Linked DNA regions of Homo sapiens. The protein of the gene in region 1 binds, or shares a complex with, the protein of each later gene. Each region holds a gene or a part of one and is shown on either strand. Other genes may lie near its edges.

Evidence for each region. Proteins that work in one complex are often made in the same cells at the same time.
Region 2: the proteins of RUVBL1 (region 1) and ACTR6 are in contact, whole or in part, in a cryo-EM structure (PDB 6IGM), measured with the Homo sapiens proteins. Residues at the interface, in NP_003698.1 of Homo sapiens: Lys162, Thr163, Ala164, Lys165, Gly166, Thr167, Tyr209; in NP_071941.1 of Homo sapiens: Tyr217, Tyr300, Arg338, Cys339, Leu340, Thr341, Pro342, Thr343.

What each region holds. Positions count from the first base shown.
Region 1 is NC_000003.12:128,113,802-128,120,820, reverse strand, and holds part of RUVBL1 (ruvB-like 1), read left to right. Parts: intron 1-1,406; coding exon 1,407-1,493; intron 1,494-7,019. UniProt on the Homo sapiens protein: Possesses single-stranded DNA-stimulated ATPase and ATP-dependent DNA helicase (3' to 5') activity; hexamerization is thought to be critical for ATP hydrolysis and adjacent subunits in the ring-like structure contribute to the ATPase activity.
Region 2 is NC_000012.12:100,196,141-100,203,817, forward strand, and holds the start of ACTR6 (actin-related protein 6), read left to right. Parts: upstream 1-4,674; 5' UTR 4,675-4,711; coding exon 4,712-4,779; exon of another isoform or gene 4,780-4,920; intron 4,921-7,677. UniProt on the Homo sapiens protein: Required for formation and/or maintenance of proper nucleolar structure and function. Plays a dual role in the regulation of ribosomal DNA (rDNA) transcription.

The DNA.
Region 1 (7,019 bases):
GTGAAACCCCTTCTCTACTAAAAATACAAGAAATTAGCTAGGCATGGTGGCAGGCGCCTGTAGTCCTTACATATTTTTTGAGGGGCTGCCATAAGTGTGGGACCAAGGTACTTCACAGTCCATGAGGAATAGAGGTAGAAGAGATAAGATGTATTCACAAGACTCTGGCACAGTGTGGTCACTGCCCAGAGAGAAGAGCACCTTTTAGATAGTCACGTATTCAGTTATTAAATCAGTGTAGCAAACCTTATATTATGTAATCCTGAGATATAGATGCTCAGCTAGTGTAACTTTCTCAGTGTTCCCCCCTTATAGTCAAATATTCTAAAATATATGAAGTTCCATAGCCCATTTATGGAATATGTGTGTGTATATATACACACATGTGTACTGCAAATGGTTAATAAAATTCAGAGATTTATAATGTATTTAAAATATACTAACAGATGATAAAGTAATTTAACCTTGAGGATTCAAAACATATTCAATGGATCTAATAGTGCCATAGGTTTAACTTCACATTCAGTATTTACAGTGTTCACTGATGGCCAGCTAGTACTCTATGTCATTGATTCTTACCCCTTAATAGGTTACTCTGGGAATTTGATGAAAGCTATGGATCCTTTCTCTGGAAAAAATGTATATATGAACATAAACACAGTTTCGTTCCCAACTTCAAGAGGTATTTGGGCCCCTGGCGTCTATCCCTGTACCCTGGGCCAAAAATCAGTGTTCCCACTTGTACTCATACTGTGCATTCTTCACACAGTAGTAGCTAGCACCATCTTTTAAAAACAAATCATAGCATGACACATAGTCTTCAAGACCTTTTCAGTGGCTTTGTATTATTTATGTAGAATAAAATCCAAACTTTACCACACACTGTAAGTTCCTGTTCTGCGTTCTGGCCGCTGTCTACCTCTTCAACCTCATCTTCCTGGTCTTTTTCGCTATACTTTGGTCACTGCAACCTTTCTGTCCCTTGGATATGCCAAGCTTGTTTCTGCTTTGGATTTTCTGAATTCGCTGTTTTCTTTGCCTGGAACGCTGACTCCTGCTCCTCCCAGAGGTTCACATATCAAATTAAATGTCATCAGAAAGACACTCCAGGATCACTTTCTAGCCACTCGTTCTCTCTCATCATCCCTTTTTCTTCATAGTAGTGATGAAGATTATGTGTGCAATGTTTGTATGTTTGTATCCCTCCCTAAAACATGAGCTCCACAAGTACAAGGCTTTTCTGCCTTGCCTTCGTTACCCTCGGCACCTAGAACAGTGACTGCAGTGCACTGGCACTCAGTGTTAGTTGGATGAGTGTGTGACTTGTGTAGGCCAGGGACTGAGATTTTTCCCCTTGTGAAACATTTTAATATTGATTTATTATTTCTTTCCATTGTGGTGTGTAGGCATGTGGCGTCATAGTAGAATTAATCAAAAGCAAGAAAATGGCTGGAAGAGCTGTCTTGTTGGCAGGACCTCCTGGAACTGGCAAGGTACTCATTTTCTCTCATTTTTTAAATCTACCCAGGAGAATGATCCTAGTGTCTAAGCCAAATTGAATTCATGTCTTAACTAGTCTTTGTTTAGCTAAATGGGTTATATGTATGTTTTTAAAATTAATATGCAATAATACAATTGGGTATCTAAAATCCCTGCTTCTAAAATTCAAATTATCCTGGCCTACCTCCAGAGAAGAAAGAATGAAGTCCTTGAAGGGGTCTCATTGTCTCTAGAATTTGTCCTTTTTCTCTTTCAAGTCTCCTTTGCTGTGGAAATACATTTCTGTTGGCCTAGGGCTTCATAAAGATCTTCTGAGTGACATCTTACTTGAGGGGACAAAAAAATGAGTCAAGCATTCTTCCAAATGCTAGCTTTACGCATCGCTATTGTGGCTGTGTGGGAGATGAAAAAAAGGAAAACAAGAATTAGAGACATGATTTTTATCTTCAAGGGGCTTACAGTCTCTCCAGGGCAGAAAGAAAGGAAATCATGACAGCACAGGAGGACTCAGTATGAGTGCTCAGCTTTGAGGTATTGACTAATATTAAATGCAGCTGGAATTTAAGGAGGCAGCACTGTGGGCTGGTACAGCTGGAAGGGTTGAGACTTGACATTTTCCCTTCAGAGCTGGGAGAGGATTTGGCTTTGCAGGGAAGATAAGGGCCTTTCAGGCAGAGGACACCGTGTGGCTTCTTGGGATTCGTGAGGGGACTGGCCAGATACTTGAAACTCACCAGAGTTCCCAATTTGAGCTTGCTTATTCTTCAAAAGGGCCGCTTGATGTGGGCAAGTAGGAGCTTGGGGTTGTGTGTGAAAAGAAATGGGCTTTAAATTCCAGCTCTAGTATTGACTTGCTATGAGACCTGAGGCAGGTCCCTTAACTTTTCTAAGCAAAAGCATACTCTACCTATTTCAAGCAATTATTAAACTGATCGATTGTAAGATAATGACTTGCATTATAATTTTGAAATGATTACTGATTGTGTATCTTATATTGGTATCTTACAAGAGGAAGAAGTGCTATATTTGTGAACAGTTTTTTCTCTTCCTATATAAAAGCAAATTGTGAACAGTTTTTTAAACTGTAAAGTGCCATACAGATGTGAGCTTCAGTTACCTCTCTCCAGGCAACATTAGCTTGTCCAGTGCATTTACCATTTATTTGCTTGCTATTCCTTATATCTTAGACCTTCTCTTTCCCTCCATTTTTCTTCTTCCTAAAGTAAATAATTTAGAAATTTCTTCTAGAAGTTTGTTGGTGGGAAAGTCTCTCACGTTTGCATTCATTATGTTGCCCTTGTTTTGAAAAAGAGCTATGTTGGCTATATAATTCAGTTGACAGATATTTTCTTCAGTACTGTTTCACAGTACTTCTCTCTCAATGTTATTTGCTCCTTTGGCTTCTGTTGTTTTTGAGAAGTCTAATTTTGAGGGTTTTGAGTCTTCTTTCTGCATGTTTTTGAGATATTTTTGGGTTTGGTGTTTCACTATTATATGTCAGAGTGGATTAATTTTTGTTTATCATGCTTAATGCTAATTGTGCTTCTTGAATCTGAGTATTATGTCTCTGCTCAATTCTGGAAAATTGTCAGCCTTAGGAGAATCGCTTGAACCTGGGAGGCAGAGGTATCAGTGAGCCAAGATCATGCCATTGCACTCTAGCCTGGGTGACAGAGCAAGACTACGTCTCAAAAAAAAAAAAAACAAAAAAACTGTCAGCGTTAATCTCTTCAGCTATTGCCTTTCCCCATTCTCTTTGTTCTTTCCTTCTGGAACTCCACTGAGATGAGGTTAAGATTGCAGTGGTTTTCAACCTGGGGCAGTTTTGCCCTTGCAGGGGACTTTGACAACGTCTGGAGACATTTTTGGTTCTCACGACTTGGTTGGGGGTGCTACTGGCATCTAGTGGGTGGAGGCCAGGGATGCTACTAAACATCCTGTAGTGCACAGAGCAGTTTCCATAATAAGGAATTATCTGGCCACAAACGTCATGGAGTCAAGCTGAGAAACCCTGGGCTAGAGCTTCTCGTTTTGTCCTCTTTGTCTTTTAGCCTCTCATATTTGTTATCTTTTTGACTCTGCTAAATTATGGGTAATTTCTTTTAGATCTTTGTTCCAGTCTAATTGTCTCTTAAGCTATGATTAAGTGACTGATTAATCCAATCTATTGAATATTTTTTTCCTTTTCATTTTGAAAAGTTTGGAACCTACAAAAAACTTGAAAGAATAGTGTGATGAGCCCCTCTATACCCTATACCTAGATAGCCAGTTATAAATATTTTGTGACATTTGCTTTTTCTCTAGTTTATTTCTGAACCACTTGACAGTAAGTTGTAAGGATGTCTTCCTACATGACCACGGTGCCATCATCAGACCCACCTTGCTAATGCTATTATATTCCCCCAATTTTTGTCAATTAAAAATTAAATTAATTAATTTTTAAAAAATGAGCAGCAGAGCCAGGGAGAGAATGGTGTCTCAGGAACCAAGAAAGGAGAACCTTTAAAGAAAGGAGTAGGTAACCATATCCACTGTGGTAGAGAAATCACAAAGATGAGGGAGCCTGGCAGCTCATCATATGATTCCATGAGCAGTTAACAAATGTGCTTTCAAAGACAACGAAGTTAAATTGTTTTAATGAAAAGAAAATATAGGTGATAGAAATCAGAAAACATCTTTCCAAGTTGTTTCAGTTTTTGGCTTTTTAAAAAACACCAGAATATCAAAATGCAATCAAAGATTACACACTGCATAAATTGTTACAAGTTATAATGTCTTTTTTTTTTTTTTTTGAGATGAAGTCTCGCTCTCTTGCCCAGGGTGGAGTACAGTGGCGTGATCTTGGCTCACTGCAATCTCTGCCTCCCAGGTTCAAACGATTCTCCTGCCTCAGCCTCCTGGGTAGCTGGGATTACAGGTGCCTGGCTAATTTTTGTATTTTTAGTGGAGATGGGGTTTCATCATGTTGGTCAGGCTGGTCTCGAACTCCTGACTTTAGGTGATCCACCTGCCTTGGCTTCCCAAAGTGCTGGGATTACAGGCGTGAGCCACTGTGCCTGGCCCCCAGATGTATTTTGTTATGGCCCACCTTTTTTACTCATGTGTGGCCCTTCAAGAGTCCTCTTTTATGTTTTTTTTTTAATTGTAATGTTTTTGTTTGTTTGTTTGTTTTTTGAGACAGTTTCAGTCTGTCGCCCAGGCTGGAGTGCAGTGGTCTGTTACCCAGGCTGGAGTGCAGTGATCTCGGCTCACTGCAGTCTCTACCTCTTGGGTTCAGGTGGTCCTCCCACCTCAGCCTCCTGAGTAGCTGGGACTACAGGTGCACACCACCACGCTTTGGCTAATTTTTGTAGTTTTCGTAGAGATGGGGTATCGCCATTTTGCCCAGGCTGGTCTTGAACTCCTGGGCTCAAGCAATCCACCTGCCTCGGCCTCCCAAAGTGCTGGGATTGCAGGCTTGAGCCACCGTGCCCAGTCCCGGTTTTATTCAGGGGTTTCTATCTTAAGTGCTATACCTTGCTGAGCTTTCCTGTATCTACAGTCTCTGAACTTTCAAGGCAAATAGTTTACTGCTCTGAATGTTATTATTTATTCAATTCTAGGTGTTTTGTAAGAGGAGAGGTTTTCAGTGGACCCAGTGTGCCATATTGCTAGAAGCATATGTCTTTCATTTTTTTTGGTGATATTGTATTGCTTTCCTCCCAGGAAATATGAGAAGTGCTCAGCACTGTGGTATTACCTTATAAGTTTGTCCACTCCCTTCCAATGTGTATGAAGGAATTTGGTGACTTCTGCTTAATGGTTTGCTGCAGGGTCCCAAAGTTTAGGCAACTTACCTGGGTGACAGGCAGAAATACTGCTTATTTTAGAGATGCAAATGCATGGTTCATATGCATTTCCACTCTTGAGGACCTCACACTGTTAATAATGGGTTTGGGTTTTAGAAGAAGGAGATATTCAGATGAGATTGAAAAATAGAGATTTCTTCAACCTTCTTTTGGCAACAACCTCTTTTTTGTGCCACTTGTCACTCACATGGGGTGAGTACAAAAAAAAATGGCTTTGGAGATTGGGGTTTGCATCCTGGTGCTGCTGCTTGCGGTTTTACCTTGGGTGTGTTGGTAACTTTTGAGTTTGTTTCTTAATCTATAAAATACAAACTAGATGATCAAGGTCATAGGCTAGTTGGGGAGATTCGATGAGGTCTATGCAGCACTCTGTAGTAGGTGTAGGAATAGTAGCCATATCATATACTTTCCCTCTGGAAGTCTTTAAATGGAGGAAACGAGACACACATGAAGCTTTTTTTTTTTAACCAAGTATTTATCATATTTTAATGGAAGTATGTTCATCTCTTCTGTATTAGTTAAAGGGAGGGAGAGTGCCATTGAATTGGATGTGGTCACTGTCTTTGAAGTTCAAAACTGAGGGTAGGGAATTGGGGCTGGCAGAGATACAAGGAAGAGAAAGGAGTAACTGGGAAGGGGTGGTCCTGTCCAGCCTGTGGCCCCACGGGGAGTCTGCTGTTAGAGTGCTGCTCCTCTCATTGTGCCCTTTCATGTTCCAGAGATTTTTTTCCTTTGCTCTTAGAAGAATACCAGTTTTCAAGGTGTCAGCCTTGAGCTCACAAGTGCAGATGCCTAATGAGGCAGGCAACGGGGATGAGGGAAGTGGCTGGGTGCACTGTGGCGTGTCTGCCTTGAGCCCCAGGTGCTCGGCCTTGCTGAAGGTCACCATGAGACTGCAGGCCAAACAGAACCAGGCTGTGAGCAACGAGTTTGCCACTTGTGATCTAGCATGGCACTTTAGTACTTTCATTTGACAGATGAGGAAATCGGGCACCTGAGATTTGCTGAGTGCCCAAGGTCACACTGAAAATTAGTGGCAGAACCAGCACTAATCTTTCTGTTCCTGGCTAGTGCATTTTATACTGTGCTATACACTGATTCTCTACCAGATTTTACTACCTCAAAACTATCACCAAAAGGGCATAGAAAAGAAAATCTGAGAGGAACCTTGACTGTTAATTTTAAGACACCGTCTCAGTTTCACTTTGTTCTTCAGTAACAAGCTTGTTTTCAGTCTTAGCCCATATACCTGGGGAGCTGGCCTTACTCGTGCTCCTGTTTCAGAGTTGAGGAAAGATGAAAATGGCATTTAGAGGCCATGGCATTGCCCAGTTCTGTACCAACTTTAAAGCATTTGCTTGCCATACTTGACATTTGACCGTACACCTGTGAAGTCTGGTTCTGTTTAGCATTTGCCAGCTGTAATTATCTTGTCAAAAATCAATTTGTAGTTTACCACAGGGCGTGTTTAAGTGTAACTTGTTAAGACCAACTCATAGCTTCAAAATCCTACTTGAGGTATCCTTCTTCACTCTTTGTGGGCTACATAACATAAAATGAACAATCCATTCATTCATTCCTTCATTATTTCTGATGGGTTGTAGATTGGTGTTTTCCTGTATTTGTAAAAAGAGAAAGCAGGTATCTCAAAGATCCAGTGGTGTATTCGGA
Region 2 (7,677 bases), on another chromosome or scaffold:
GAAATTTATCTTTCTTAAAACACACCCCTGGCTGGGCACAGTGGCTCACGCCTGTAATCTCAGCACTTTGGGAGGCCAAGACAGGTGGATCACCTGAGGTTGGGAGTTCGAGACCAGCCTGACCAACATGGAGAAACCCCGTCTCTACTAAAAATACAAAAATTAACTGGGCGTGGTGGCGTACACCTGTAATCCCAGCTACTCGGGAGGCTGAGGCAACAGAATTGCTTGAACCTGGGAGGCGGAGGTTGTGGTGAGCTGAGATCACACCATTGCACTCCAGCCTGGGCAACAAGAGTGAAACAATGTCTCAAAACAAACAAATAAACAAAAAACACCCCTACTCTAAAACCCTGATCCCTTCTTTTGGAAAGCCTTGCCTGTTTCCATTTCCATTGTTGTAAATAGCCAACACTCGAGGCCTCAGGTATTATCTTACTCTGTGACCAATTTAATTTTACATGTCAAAATATTCCTCCATTGTCAGTAACCCAAAGGAAAATATTTCCTTTTCTTAAAAAAAAAAGAAATACTCTGAACCTACAACAAGATGGATAGCGGCCAGGCACAGTGGCTCGTGCCTGTAATCTGAGCACTTTGGGAGGCCGAGGCGGGTGGATCACCAGAGGTCAGGAGTTTGAGACCAGCCTGATCACCATGGTGAAACCCCGTGTCTACTAAAGATACAACATTAGCCAGGCGTGATGGCGCATGCCTGTAATCCCACTTACTTGGGAGGTTGAGGCAGGAGAATCACTTGAACCCAGGAGGCGGAGGTTGCAGTGAGCTGATAGCGCGCCATTGCGCTCCAGTCTAGGCAACAGGAGCAAAACTCTTGTCTCAAAAAAAAAAAAAAAAAAAAAGATGGATGGCATAACACAACAAACACTGATGCACCCACCACCCAGTCCAAGAAATAAAACACTGCAAAACAACAGTGGAAGCCACAAGGCACCAGCCCCAAGGCAGCCATTCCCAATCACATCCCCCCTCTTCCCATCAGAGGCAACCACCACCTAGAAACCAGAGCTCATCACCCCCTTGCATCTCTTCCCCTCCTGACACAGTATATATCCTTGTGATCTGTAGCACTATTTTACATGATCTTCTTAACCTTTCTATAAATGGTATCATTCTGAACAGAATCAGTCTGTAACTTATTTCTTGCTCAATTTTATGTTTGTGAGAGTAATCCACATTGACACTTATAGCTCTAGTTCCTTTGTTTACTACCACATAATATGCCATTATATGAATATACTACATAGTTGGCCAAAAACACTGCTTGATGTTTCATATGCCATGTAGTGCCTACTACTTTCCGTACCACTATGGAAAATGTGCCAGCCATTTCCATAACATTCTCCAGAATCCTCACAGCCACTAATGAGGAAGGTAAGATTCCCATTGAAGATGAGGAATGAGAAGACCAAAGAGGAACTGGGACGTGGTATAACTTGTCCAGTACATGTGAGCAGCAGGATCCTGCTTCAAGTTCAAGCCCATCCAAGTCTAAAGCCATGCTCCTGACAATATGCCCTGTAACCCATATAGGGCTTTACAGTCATCTGAGAAAAATCTGAAACATGACGCTCTATTTTCTTTGTTAACAAATATCCTACAGGAAATTCACCTGACATGGGGACAGTCCATGTATACACTGAGGAAGAGCCTCTACCTTTGGCAAAGGTCTTCCACCGGGGTCATTCCCATGTTTATACAGGCGCAAAGTAAGCCTGAGTAGGACTGCAACCCTGGCTGGCTTCCTTCGGGGAAACAGGCTGTCTGCACCCACTTACAGACAGGACAGAGGAGCCCGAGAGAACATGGGAATCAGATCCTGCTTGAATTGGCAAAAGCTGAGTCGACAAAGCTCTGAGAACATCTCCGGGGGCAGCTGCAGCTGTTAGCAGCTCTGGGGGTCTGAGGAACAGTCCTGTGCTCATAAGGCCAAGAGCCTGCCTACTCTGCTCTCCGCGTGGCCAGCTTTGAGAGTGCTTTCATACATCCCAGCCCAACCCTGCTGCCCTGGAGAAAGCCGAGCCTGCAGCGCGGAAGAGGAATGAGAGAGAAGGTGGAGGTTCACAGGAGCCAGGCAGGGAGCACAGCCTGGAGAAAGGATACTGGGCTCCAGGCCTGGGCCCAGATCCCTCTATGTGCTCGAAGCAGGTGGACCCCTCGGAGGTGACAGAGTCTAGCCCGCTAAGGACTCCCAAGGAAAGGGGAGGCCTCTCAGCACCAGGACTCCTCACTCTACTCTCCTGCTTCTGCATTATTTTTCCCATTATGTCTCTTCGCTGGAGGATTAAAAGAGCCTCAAAGAGCAAGGCCTAACTGGCTGAAGTGACCCCCTCCCACCTCTCCTGGACAAAACAAGGAGCAAGAAAAGAGGGTCTGCCACTTACTGGCTGTGTGACCTTAGCTGGAGCATCCCTGCCCACTCTCGGAGGAAATGTAGTGGAATATCTCTAAGGGCCCTGCCATTTCTGACTCTTTTTGTCTATAGTGCTAAATGCACTGTGGCTCACGTCTGGAATCCCAGGAAGATGGGTGGGGAGGATGGTTTGAGCCCAGGAGTTCGAGACTAGCCTGAGCAACATAGCGAGACCCCCATCTACACACACACACACACACACACACACACACACACACACACACACACACAAAAACCATTTTTTAAATTAGCCAGGCGTGGGCCTGCACCTGTGGTCCCGGATACTTGGGAGGCTCAGGTGGGAGGCTCAGGTGGGAGGATCACTTGAGCCCAGGCATGAGGCTGCAGTTAGCTGAAATCACACCACTGCACTTCAGTCTGCACAACAGAGCGAGATCCTATGGCAAAAAGAACAAATAAATAAAAATAAAATAAATGTACTAACATTTACTGAGCAGTTTAGAGTATAATTAGTTTAATCTCAACACCCCATGATATAGATACTACTGCTATCTCATTTTAGAGGACGCTGAAGGGCAGAGCGGTTAACTGATGTACCAAGGTCCTAGCAGAGTTCTAAAGGAGGCCCCTGGGGCAGAAGCCTACGGTTATGAATGCTTGGGAGGGCTGCACCGGACATCCACGGGATGCTGGGGGTGAGAAGACACTAGAGAGGGGTCAGAGGGAAGGAGCAGAGGGAGATAATGGGTCAAAGTGTCTGAGGAAGGAGACTGGGCTGGGTAGCCCCAGCCACCCGGGCCTAAGCCCAGGTGGAGGGGAGGAGATAGGAACGAGGACGGGATGTGGAGAAGTGGGGAAAGGCAGGCCGACGTTGGCAGGGTGCGAGGAGGCCTTGGAGAAAGGAGGGTGGATGGGGCAGGCCCCCAGGGGAGGCAAGGAGCGCCGACAGAAGGGCCCAGGCGCTTGCAGGGCGCGAGTTCCCACCTCAAGCACCGTGGCGGCTCCCGCGCTGCGCACCTGGAAGTGCGCAGGCTGCTCCGCCGCCTCGTCGGCGCGCTGGTAGCTGAAGCAGGCTTCTGCTATGTCCAGGTGGCCGAGGGGCAGCGGGTCGTGGGGGTTCTTGAAGTAGCAGAGGCAGCAGCGGCGCCCGTCCAACACGAACCGACGGCTGCGGTAGCCACGCAGTCGCGCTGGTTCCCGCGCGGTACCCGCCCCGGGCTCTGCAGCCTCCCCATCGCCGTCGCTGCCCTCCTCTGCCCGGGTTCCGGCCCCGGTATGGCTGCCTGCGCGCCAACCGTTTGTTCCCCGGCCCCCGCGCCTTCGCGCTGCGGCTGCTGCGCTCCCTGCCCCCGCGGTGCCCCCTTCCCGCCGCCCCGCTCCTCTCTCAGGCGCTCAAAGTGGCCTGGAATTTGTAGAACGCCCCCCTCCAAGCCCGTTGGCAGTTGTCCTAGCCCGCTGGCCCTTGCCCCCGCCCGCTGGCCGTTGCCCCCGCGACGCCCCGGAAGCCAGGTCCTGCCTCCCGCACCTGCCAAGTCCCCGCCCTGCCGGAGTCTCGCTCTGTCGCCCAGGCTGGAGTGTAGTGGAGCCATCTCGGCTCACTGCAACCTCCGCCTCCCCGGTTCAAGCAATTCTCCCGCCTCAGCCTCCCGAGTACTTGGGATTACAGGCGCCCGCCACCTCGCCCGGCTACTTTTTGTATTTTTAATAGAGACGGGGTTTCGCCGTGTTGGTCAGGCTGGTCTCAAGCTCCTGACCTCAAGTGATCTGCTTGCCTTGGTCTCCTAAAGTGCTGGGATTACAGGCGTGAGCCACCGCGTCCGGCCCAAAAGCCTTTTTTGGATGAGAAAGACTCACTCAGCTTCGTCCTGAAGAGCAAGTGGGCTGGGGAAGAGGAGAGTATGAATGTGAGTCCAAGAGCAAGTTTTGCACTTTTTTCTTCAAAGAATGTCACCGTCTGAAGAATGCGATTGGAAGACACACACACACACACACACACACACACACACGCAGCCGGTTCTCTACAGGATTAGAAAAAACTTGCGCGAATTAATCTGCGTAGTTAAAAACAAATACGAAATGAGCGAGAAAGCACATAGTAGTCAAATCTCGCCACCACATAAACAGGTTAAGTTTGGAAGCACAGCCCCTAACATTCGGTGCTGCTTAGCATCTCCGACTTCCGGCGTCCTCCGTTGCTAAGGTGACCAGAGGCGCGTCCTAACGCTCCGCCCAACAAACCATAGAGTACCGGAAAAAGCTCGAGCAGAGGGGTCGGAAAGGGAAAACAACTACGGCTGCGGTGTGGTTGGTGGTGAGATGACGACCTTAGTGCTGGATAATGGAGCTTACAACGCCAAAATCGGTTACAGCCATGAAAATGTGTCGTAAGTACTTTCTTTCTCCGAGGGACAAGATATATACGCCTAGTGGTTTCATGTGCTACGTTTCATCTCCGGACATCAATGAACTGCAGACACCCCCGCGCGGCCCTGACTTAGCCAGAGGGATTCCCTGGTTGGAGCTGGGTGGGTGATTGTGATGCTTTGAATTGAAATTGATTTTGGTTTTAGTTTTGGGCTGCGAGGCCCCGGAAGTGGGATATATGTTTTATTTCGTAACAGGAAATAGCCAAAGAAAATAGGCTTATAGAGATGCGTTCCTGACAGAAGGGTCCGTAAAGTTCATCAGCCTTTGGAAACTATGGGCACGGTGTTTGGGTGTATGCGGATTTTCCTGGGTACAAGATTATAGGTTTCATTAGATTCTCAAAGGGTTCTATGACCCTCCAAAAGTCTAAAAATCACGGTCTTAGGATCTAGAGGCTTTGAAGACTTTGGCCTACTGGCCGACCTAGTTGGTAAGGTCAATTAAACAGAAGTACTGTTAATACAATGGCATTCATAACATGTATAGTCATAAAATATATGTTTGAATAAATAAGCAAACCTAAAGACACGCCTTTCCTTTATCAAATTAACAGAGCATTAAAAAAAATTCTTTCCTTCCTCCCTCCTTTCCTTCTTTTTCATTTCTTTTGAAACAGAAATGAAAGAGGGAAATCAAACTGAGTAGGAATGTAAATTGTTACAATCTTTCTGGAAAACGTTTTGGCAATGTGTATCATTATCATTGTCACCGAGGCTGGAGTGCCGTGGTGCGATCTCAGCTCACTGCAGCCTGAATTCAAGTGATTCTCCCGCCTCAGCCTCCAGAGTAGCTGGGATTATAGGCGTGCACCACCACTCCCAGCGAATTTTTTGTATTTTTGTTAGAGACGGGGTTTCATCATGTTGGCCAGGCCGGTCTCGAGCCCCTGGCCTCAAGCAGTCTACCCGCGTTGGCCTCCCAAAGTGCTGGTATTAGGGGCGTGAGCCCTACACCCAGCTGACAAAGCAATTTTTTTTTTTTTTTTTGGAGAGGGAGTCTGGCTCTCTTGTCCAGGCTGGAGTGCAGTGGCACGATCTCGGCTCGCTGCAACCTCTGCCTCCCGGGTTCAAGCCATTCTCATGCCTCAGCCTCCCAAGTAGCTGGGACTACAGTTGCGCACCACCACGCCTGGCTAAGTTTTGTATTTTTAGTAGAGACGGGGGTTTCACCATTTTGGCCATGCTGGTCTGGAATTCCTGACCTCGTGATCTGCCTGCTTCAGCCTCCTAAAGTGCTGGGATTACAGGTGTGAGCCACCGCACCGGGCCATGACACAGCAATTCTGTTATTACCTAGAGAATTAATTAGAAGTGCTTTGTATTATTCATAGTCATCGTATACAGGCAGCCAAAAAATGGGAAGGAAGCTAAATAATCAGGAATAGCATATTGGCTAAATACACCAAAATACAACCTGAGACTGATAACAAATTCAAGCTTCTTAAAATTATGTCTTCAAAGAACATTTAAACATGTAGAGAAAATGCTGACAGTATTATAAGTGAAATAAGCAGGTGTAAAACATTTTTTTACAGTATTATCCCAGTGTCATCTCGTATACACATACAGACACATTTGTATGCATACATGTGTGTATAATTAATAATGGCTCTAGTTTGTCTTCCAAACCAGATTGTAAGCTCATGGCAAGCAGCAAGAGGCCCAGGTGGGTGGATCACGAGGTTAGGAGATCCAGAGCATCATGGCTAACACGGCGAAACCCTGTCTCTACTAAAAATACAAAAATTAGCCGGGCGTAGTGGCAGGCGCCTGTAGTCCCAGCTACCTGGGAGGCTGAGGCGGGAGAATGGCGTGGGCCTGGGAGGCGGAGCTTGCAGTGAGCCGAGATCACGCCACTGCACTCCAGCCTGGGGCGACAAAGCGAGACTCGGTCTCAAAAAAAAAAAAAAAAAGTTGCTACTTCTGTACCCTGTAGCAGCAGCAGTCTCCAACCTTTTTGGCACCAAGGACTGGTTTCGTGGAAGACAATTTTAACGTGTGGTTGGGGGTATGAGTGTGGGCGATGGTTTTGAAATGAAACTATTCTCAGGTATTAGATTCTCACAAAAAAAGTGCACAAACTATATCCCTTGCATGCACAGTTCAAAATAGGGTTCCTGCTCCTATGAGAATCTAATGCTATGGCTGATCTGACAGGAAGTGCAATTTAGGTGTTAATGCTTACGGCCCCACCCTCCTTCCCCACCCTGGTGCTCACCTCTTGCTATGAAGGCTTGGTTCCCAACAGACCACAGACAGGTACCGGACCACAAGCCCTGCGGTTGGGGATCCCTGCCCTATAGCATCTTGCTGATTGAAGATCTTTGGCTTCATGGGAACTTAATTTATTTTATTTTTTTGAGACAGAGTCTTGCTCTGTCGCCCAGGCTGGAGTGCAGTGGCACAATCTCTGCTCACTGCAACCTCCGCCTCCTGGGTTCAAGCAATTCTCCTGCCTCAGCCTCCCCAGTAGGTGGGATTACAGGCATGCACCACCATGCCCAGCTAATTTTTATATTTTTTAGTAGAGATGGGGTTTTACCATGTTGGCCAGGCTGGTCTTAAACTCCTGACCTCATGATCCGCCCGCCTCCGCCTTCCAAAGTGCTGGGATTACATGCTGTGAGCCACTGCTCCCGGCTGGAAACTTAATTTTTATGGCCATAATTTTTAACTTGTGAATCTTTTTTTTTTTTTTTTTTTTTTTGAGACGGAGTCTCGCTCTGTCGTCCAGGCTGGAATGCAGTGGCGTGATCTTGGCTCACTGCAAGCTCTGCCTCCCGGGTTCACGCCATTCTCCTGCCTCAGCCTTCCAAGTAGCTGGGACTACAGGCGCCCGCCACCAGGCTGGCTAGT